3 separate regions of the Homo sapiens genome follow, and all the other regions are linked to region 2. The links come from fine-mapping of genetic effects on gene expression. A gene starts in region 2. Each other region holds a variant in brackets. All regions are shown on one strand. Distances are between the middles of the regions.

Region 1 (2,500 bases), 33 kb before region 2:
CAGGCGTGAGCCACCTCACCTGGACCAACTTCTTAATATTCTGGCTTCTCGCAGCCATCTAGCCTCTTTCTCTAGTTCTCTTTTCTGATCTTAATTCATGCATTAGGAAGATAGGCAGGACTGAATGCGCTTGGTATCTCATCTCTTCCCTTAATTCTACAAAGCCTCTCAGGTCTTCCCACAACCCTTTGCTCTACCATGCTCTCTCACTCTGCCCATCCCAGAACTCTATGCAGATGGCTCTTCCAGGTCACCAGCAGCCCAAAAGTAGCCTTTCCTTGGGTCTTACCTCCTTGACTTCTCCATCTTTTGGCATCCATCACACTGAACTGCCTTGCTTCTCCTCAGTAGCAATTATTCCTCTTCAGTCTTCTTCAAGGCTCCTCTCAGCTGCCTTTCCCCTCCATGTCCTGTCTCCCAGGCTCAGCCCTTAGTCCTTCTTACTTCTCCTATAATTTCTTCTCAGGCCATCATATACATTCCCATAGTTTAACTCTATTTGCCACTAACTCCCAAATCCATATCTCTATTCTTAGCCTCTCTCGCTTTAGCTCCTCCATTTCCAACAATCTGCCAGTCATTGCCACCAGGATGACTCACTGGAACTTCCCATCCAGACTGTCCAAGTAAAGCATTTTCTTTCTCCAGTGATTTGGCCCTTTCTTCTGACTTCCCTATCTCTAGCAGATACCATCATGCAGATAGTCACCCAGGCAAAACAAACAAACAAATGAACAAAAGTTGTCGTCTTTCATCCCTCCATCTTCCTCACTTACTGTAGTCTACTAGTTTTAAAATATAAAAAGATTCTACTCCTGTTCAGAAAGCCTTCAGTGGCCTTCCATTATCTGTTGATGAAGTGCCAACTCACCCTGCCTTTGCATCCCACACTTTCCAGTGATAGCCCAACACCCTTTCTCACCCAAGCTTCCTCCAACCAAAATAGACTCTGTCCTGTTCTCAAATATATGCCAAGCTTTTCTGCCTTTCTGTTCTGATGTATGCTGTCCCTGATATCTTCTTCTCCAACACTCAAAAGGACTTTCCTCTCTTCTTACAACTTAGGGTCTTCCTGAGTATTTGTGATATTTATCATGTTCTACTCCTTGTTTTTATCTGTCTGTTCCACCTCCTGAGGTAGAGGATGGGCTCCATACTTGAAGCACCTGTTTCCCCACCACACTTACATACCTTGTGCACAGCAGATCCTCATTATACTTTTGATGAATTGAATTCAGTTGGGGCTCAGCAGCTGTGTAAGAAGAACCAAGTTTCCAGGACCCTCTCCTCTCCTGAAACCAGGCAGATATTCTATTACTTGTCCCAC[T/C]TTCTCATCTTAAAAATGGGCCTCTGTTTTTCCCTTATGGTCTGAACATCTACCGTTTACCTCTGCAAGCAGTGAAAAGTGGTCAGATCTTTGGAACAATAGTCATAGCTACTGAGCACTGCCCATGTGCCAGACACTGTTTGAAGCGCATACATGTTTTAACTTCTTTAAACCTCTCAGCAAACTTGTGAAATAGACACTGAAATTCCCATTTTACAGATGAGGAAACTGAAGCACAGACAGGTTAAGTGGCATGTCTAAGCATAAACAGCTAGTATGGAGGGAACCAGATTCTCAGGCAGGCCCCTGGCTCCAGGGCCTATGCTCCCACCATTTTGCTATAAGGAAATGCAGATTTGAAAAGAGGAGATTTTACTTGTAGGTCTTGATGACCCCAATCCCAAAACCCAGAGCCTGGTTTGGTCTTCACAGGTTTGACCTAATGTGTACATATGTGTATCTGATTGTGAGTGTATGTGCAGTGGAATTAGGGGAGAGCCACCTGTCTTTGCACTCTGCTCTTTAGCTGGTGTTGTTGTGTTTGACGTTATTTCCCCAACACAAGCTTCCTGGAAGAAGACGGTATCTTCCATGATTTTACTCTCCCACTGGAGTCTGATCTAGCGCTTGTCATCTAGCAAGCGACCCACAAGTTTAAGGCTGAATCACATTTTCACATATAAAGTCAGTGCCCAAGCCATGTCTCTCATTTGAAGCTTCTGTTGTCTGCCCCCACTTCTCCCAGCCTCCTGACACACACCCACTCTCTCACAGAGCAGGTGCACTTCAGCAGAATGTAAGCAAATCAGTGCTGAATGTCAAAACGGATTTTACTCAATTATTAAATTGCGAGAACCAGGAGAAGAGCAAATAAATATCCCAACAAAGTTATGCTATGAAATATGTGAAACCCACCCAGATCTAATATTTAATTTAGACTCAACTGTCTCAACAGCTTTCTACCATCCCAGATTCCAGCCAAAGGCCATCAGACATGGCTTGGGGTGAAAACTCGGTAGCTATACAGGCCTAATGCAAAGACCAAGGCTGAATGATGGGCCACCCCTCAGGGACAGGTGCCCACAGGCCAGAGGCTGAAAAGCTTCTCCAAAGATGCCAATTAGCTCAAGCACAAGAACCAAAGCCTGAGCTCTGACATCTGCATAAGTCAGG
Region 2 (2,500 bases):
GCAGCTTGTCGCCCCGGCCCCGGCCCCGGCCCCCGCCGGCCCCTTTAATTCGAGTTCGCCGTCGAGCCAGGTGCGGCGCTGCGTGGCGCGGTGCGGCTGCGGGCGGCGGCCGGGAGCTCCGTACGCGCCGCCCGCGGGACTGCAGAGCCGGCTCCCGGCTGGCCGCCCGCACCCCGCCGCCGCCCGCTGCCGGGGTTCTGCCGGCGCTGGCCGTAACCTAGGAACATGGAGGCCCCGGTGCCCATCCGGAAGGGTAAATCCGTGTCGGGGCGTTGCGCGGCGCGTGCTGCCTTCCCTGCCCGGCTGCGGCGCCCAGAGGGGCTGCGGGGCACCCGGCGGCGCAGCCTGCAGCGCAGCAGGCTTGGGCTGAGTCCGCGGCGGCAAGCCCTTGCCGACCACTGCCGTCTGCTCGGCAGGTCCCAGACCGGGGAGATCAAGGGGAACTTGCACCCTGCTCAAGAAGAGTGCACAGAATGGGCTCGGGACCCTCTGGGGTTTGCGTGGCGCGGGGCGGAGGGCACGGAGAGGAGCTGGTGGGTGGTGGGAAGTGCAGCTGGCAGCATAACCATGTCTGGTAAATAGCGCGGGTTGGTAGGACCTGAACCACTTGGGACGGCCGGGCTGCATTCGCCTCTTCGGCACAGAATAACAAACGGCTTTGCTGCAGAGAGGGCTTTCCCCTTCGCTGGGGCCGTGGGCTGCCGCCGAGCCCCCGCGCTTAAAAGGAAGCTGAGATCTGGGGCGGCAGCCTGGCGCAGGCTACTCCCCACCCCCAGAGATCAGGTTCCGGGATTTTGGGTTGGACACTGAGCCTCGGCGGTCCCTCGGCTGGACGCCGGGGGCTTAAGAGCTGAACTGCGCTTGGGCCCGCAGCAGGAGCCGACCGCGCGGGCAGGAGGGGGTTAAGGTGGCGCTAGCGGCCGCGGCCAGCGGGAGGGTCTGGTCCTCTGCGCGGAGGCGAGCGCTGAGTGCGCCGAACGGAATCCCGGCCGGAGCCCGGGGCGATGGGGAGAGGGCCCAGACCCCTCCCCGCCCTGGGGCCGGCGGGATTGGGTCGGCAGGGGGCCAGTCCGGAAGCCGGCTTCCTCCAGGCTCCCCCTCTCGCTGCTGCCAAGCCGCCTCGCAGCTAGGCAGGCGGAGCGTTTATTCTGTGCTCCCTGCCGAGGAGATGTGAGGGATTTTCTCTTGGGGGAGAAATCAGTGGTCGAGCGCCTGCCCAGCTCAAATGCCACCCGGCTCAGAGGGAGGCCTGCGGCCCAGGGATCCCGGAGGGAGAGTAAGTTCATCCAGTTTTCGTACAGTGCAGACTTTGTTGTGTGGGGTCTCCCTAGATGCGCTCTGAAGGAGTGTGTGTGCTGGGGGGTGGGGTGCTTCTTTTCCAGGACTGGCTGAGGTCAGAGCTTGTAGACAGGCTGCAGTGAGCTAAGCCCTCCTCTTGGGAGCTGCTGTGTCCTGACATGTGGGGGTAGGAGTGCTTCTTCCAGAGTCCTTCCTGAGAGCAGCTGGGGACTAGCAACCTGGATCAACCCAGGGAGGCCCCTGGAGAAGGCAGGCCCAGCCAAGCCTGAGTCTTGCTCCCTGGGAGAAAATGCTTCAAGCTGATGGGAAGCCTGCCCAGAAGAGGCAAGGAGGCTGAGGGATAGTCCTCAGGCCTGGCATCAGAATAGAGGATGGGCATGGGGGCCTGTTACCTCCCATGAGGGAAGCTGCCAGACCCTCCTAAATCTTGGCACCAGCTGGTTCAAATGCCCTGGTTCCACCTTGCTGCTGTTTTTTTCCAGGCAACGTCACACCTCCTGAGGACAGCCAGGACTCCAGCTTTTGCTGAGCTTTGCATCTTGCCTCCTTCCTTCAAAAGGCTCCAGGCCCATGCTCGGCTGTCTTCAAGTCCCGCATGCCCCTGGCCAGGCACCTCACCGCCCCTCCAGCCCAGCCCAATCCTAGAGCTCACCTCCAGGACCCAGAGTCTGCCCTTCTGCCCAGAATGACTCACCATTATTTCTAGCTCGAGTGAGAAGACGTGATGAGGAGTTGGGCTGCCTGTTGGTGCATCTCAGATTCCTGCAGCATCTGATCAGCTCTGCAAGGAAGAGAGCTTCACGTCTCTGGTCAGGTAAATCAATCTATCATTTAATAACAGCCTTGTGTAGAATCACTGGGGTGGAGGCCAATGAGAAAGACCCAGGCCCAAGCTCCCCAACCATGAATACCTCCCTGGGTATGAGTATCTGAGACATTAGTGCAGCACCTGGGAGAGGGTCCACTTTTAACCTATTAGCATGGGGTTATGCTCCATGAAGCCTGTGTGCTACAAGCGGGCCTGTACCAGCCACCTTCCCCCAATGCAGGGCATTCCAGAGGTTCCTGGAGAGATTGCTACCTGCTCCCCCTGATCCCCAGACAAGTTACAAGGTGAAAGTAAATTTTGCTTTGTCGTTGTGGTGGTGGTGATCATGTGTCTGAACTCTTGGCTGAGAGATGGGAGACAAAAAGTGGCAAC
Region 3 (2,848 bases), 55 kb before region 2:
ACAGACAGAAATAACTACTCCAAGCAAGAACTGTTTGAATTGCTTTATACCTAGAGTCTGTAGATCTTTTCCCTGCAGACCTTTTAACTGATTTTAAAAGAGCATTTTATTGTGTGACCATATAAATTGAAGATATTTATTATTAGTAGACCTAAATACGGCTCAAAGTAGTATCAATTATACCTCACAGCTCATTTTCCCATGACTTTCTAGATTTTTTTAAAAGCTCACATCTTAACATATTACTGACTTTAATTACTGAGTGAGATTAAAGGTTTTTGCTTGCTGAGAGTACATAATTTTCAAGACCTCAATCAGAGAATTATATAGAATCGAGTAAGAAATCTTTCTAGTCCTTGAGCTTATTCATTACCATTTACTTGGTAGAACTGGTAAAACTTATTGGTGTGCAGCTAACACTAAGTAATTTAATAGATGTCAAAGTATATAGACACATGAAAACAAAGTTCCCATATAACTACATGCTATAGAATGACTTCAACTCTTTTCTCATCAAATGTAAGTTGATGAGACTAACAGTTAAGTAAGCTAGGTTTCTGTACTTCTTTCATTTAGGCCTTTTGGAGGTATTAATTACTTCTTCATAAATTTGATAATTATTGAAATTTGACTATTCTTATTCTCTTTTCTTGTTCTATATGTTGGAACATTTATTTGGTAAATTATCTTCAATTATAGGTCACTGTTTTCTATTGTACTTCCTTTCTCTCATTTTATAGAATCGATTTTGGGTCCATTCTTCTAAGCCTTTCAACCCACATCTTAACCACTAATATAGACATTCTGAATTTTTTTTTTTTTTTTTTTTTTTTGAGACGGAGTCTCGCTCTGTCACCCAGGCTGGAGTGCAGTGGCACCGTCTCGGCTCACTGCAAGTTTTGCCTCCCGGGTTCACGCAATTCTTCTGCCTCAGCCTCCCGGGTAGCTGTGACTACAGGCGCCCGCCACCACGCCTGGCTAATTTTTTTTTTTGTATTTTTAGTAGAGACGGGGTTTCACCCTGTTAGCCAAGATGGTCTCGATCTCCTGACCTCGTGATCCGCCCGCGTTGGCCTCCCAAAAGTGCTGGGATTATAGGCGTGAGCCACCGCGCCCGGCTGACATTATGATGATTATCCTGATATCACTTTTATTTTTGTTTCGTTGAATTACCACCCCCTCCACACCTATACTTTATTAGGATGCCATGCTTATACCATTCTTATTTAATAATCTCAAGAGCCTTGAGAGGCAGGTATTAATACATGAGGTTGTTTTTTAAGGCCCACCGTTTTATATAAAAAGAATGTAACAGCAGCAAGACAAGAATAGCTTAATGCAGACTTCTCAA[G/A]GTAAGCAAAGCTGCAGTAGCATTGAGCAGAACCTAGGCACTTAGGAAATAAAATGGATGCTAGGTCATTCATGTTACTTGTGATTTCTTATGATTAGTAGTCATTAATAACTATTAGACCATTATAACTTTAAAACTCTGATAGTGAAAATTAAGCATACTGTGAACGTACTCTTTCTTTTTGCCTAAAATCAGCGTTAAGACTTTTAAAATCACTGATGAGCAGTGATCTGTCTGCGAGATCAAGGTGACCGAGTGTATAATCCAGGCCAATAAGAAAAAAATTTCAATAGATAGTTAATTGATTGCCCAGCACACAGTAGGCATACAGTATTTAATTTAGCAAGTGAATGATTCTTCCATCAAAAGCACACTCAAATTCCAGATCACCATCTTTGGGCATTTACCACTGGTTTTGGGCGCCTGCTAAAACCAGGAGTATATATGGGAAATAGTCTTCTCTACATATTGTGATGGATGATATTCACATATTCAAACCCAGAGCTGGGTTTATAGCATCTGGGTTTATAGCTGGGTTTATTTTTGTCTTTATAATTTCTGTCTTTATATTATATAGTTAGTAAATTTCTAGAATACATAAATCTAATTTTTATATATCCATTTATGTATTCAACATGTATTTACTGAGTACCTCCTATGTGTCAGACACTACCCAGGGTGATAGAGATTTATTCATTAATTCAGCATATAAAGTGTCTACTATATGCCAAACACTATTCTAGATTCTGGATGTAGGAAGTGAATAAGTCTATTGTATTGCTTTATCCTCTTCTTAAGAAATATTTTGCTATCAGAATTTCTCAATAATTATTTTGGCAGTTAAGGAAGGGAAGCACCAAATCTTTAACCTTTATTTCTTGTCCTGGTCAAGTGGTTATTATTGTCTTAATTTGGGAAATTTTAAAATGGTACATAACTGTGCAGAGTTCATATTTTAAAGAATCAACAGACTTAAAAGTTATTTATAATGAAGAGATAAATGATAGGAATGTCATCCTATTAGCACATAGAACATGGTTTTCTCAGCACTTATTTGGTGTCTTGTCTCTCTCTCTCTCTCTCTTTTTCTCTCCATGACACTTAGCGTTGGATTTTTATTCACTTCAAGAGTTCTCATCATAGATTACCACAGTAAGATGGGCAGCCAGGAAAAAAAATCCTTGGAAATACACTGAGAAAATTAACACATACATTTTTCTAAAAATCAATAGGCACTCAGAACCTTTCGATGATTCTAAGGCTGAAGATAAATTTTGTGTCCAAAAGCAAACTATCACACTGGTTTGGACTAAATTTCAAGATCATTATTAGTAGAAAAATGTCTATAATTTCAGCATACTCCAAAACGTTTTCTAACTTACAAATTAAAAGAAATATGTAGTTAATACATTTAGACAATTAAATTGCTTGAGGTTTTCAGGGTAACAGTTTTTAAAAAGCAACATTTAAAAAATATATAATGAATGGAACATTTTC

Evidence for each region. PIP is the estimated chance that this variant, and not a neighbour inherited with it, causes the effect.
Region 1: its variant is fine-mapped to the expression of KCNA2 in whole blood (TOPMed, PIP above 0.99).
Region 3: its variant is fine-mapped to the expression of KCNA2 in whole blood (TOPMed, PIP above 0.99).

Annotation. Positions count from the first base shown.
Region 1 is chr1:110,638,315-110,640,814 of GRCh38, reverse strand. No RefSeq gene overlaps it. Among named protein-coding and RNA genes, the nearest start is that of KCNA2, 33 kb to the right of the region's middle. The variant T/C (reference allele first, on the strand shown) is at 1,328.
Region 2 is chr1:110,605,004-110,607,503 of GRCh38, reverse strand. It overlaps KCNA2 (potassium voltage-gated channel subfamily A member 2), which reads left to right and starts at 1,146. Exons shown (of 3, transcript NM_004974.4): 1 at 1,146-1,276; 2 at 1,782-2,113.
Region 3 is chr1:110,660,098-110,662,945 of GRCh38, reverse strand. It overlaps a transcript of KCNA3 not described here. Among named protein-coding and RNA genes, the nearest start is that of KCNA3, 13 kb to the left of the region's middle. The variant G/A (reference allele first, on the strand shown) is at 1,352.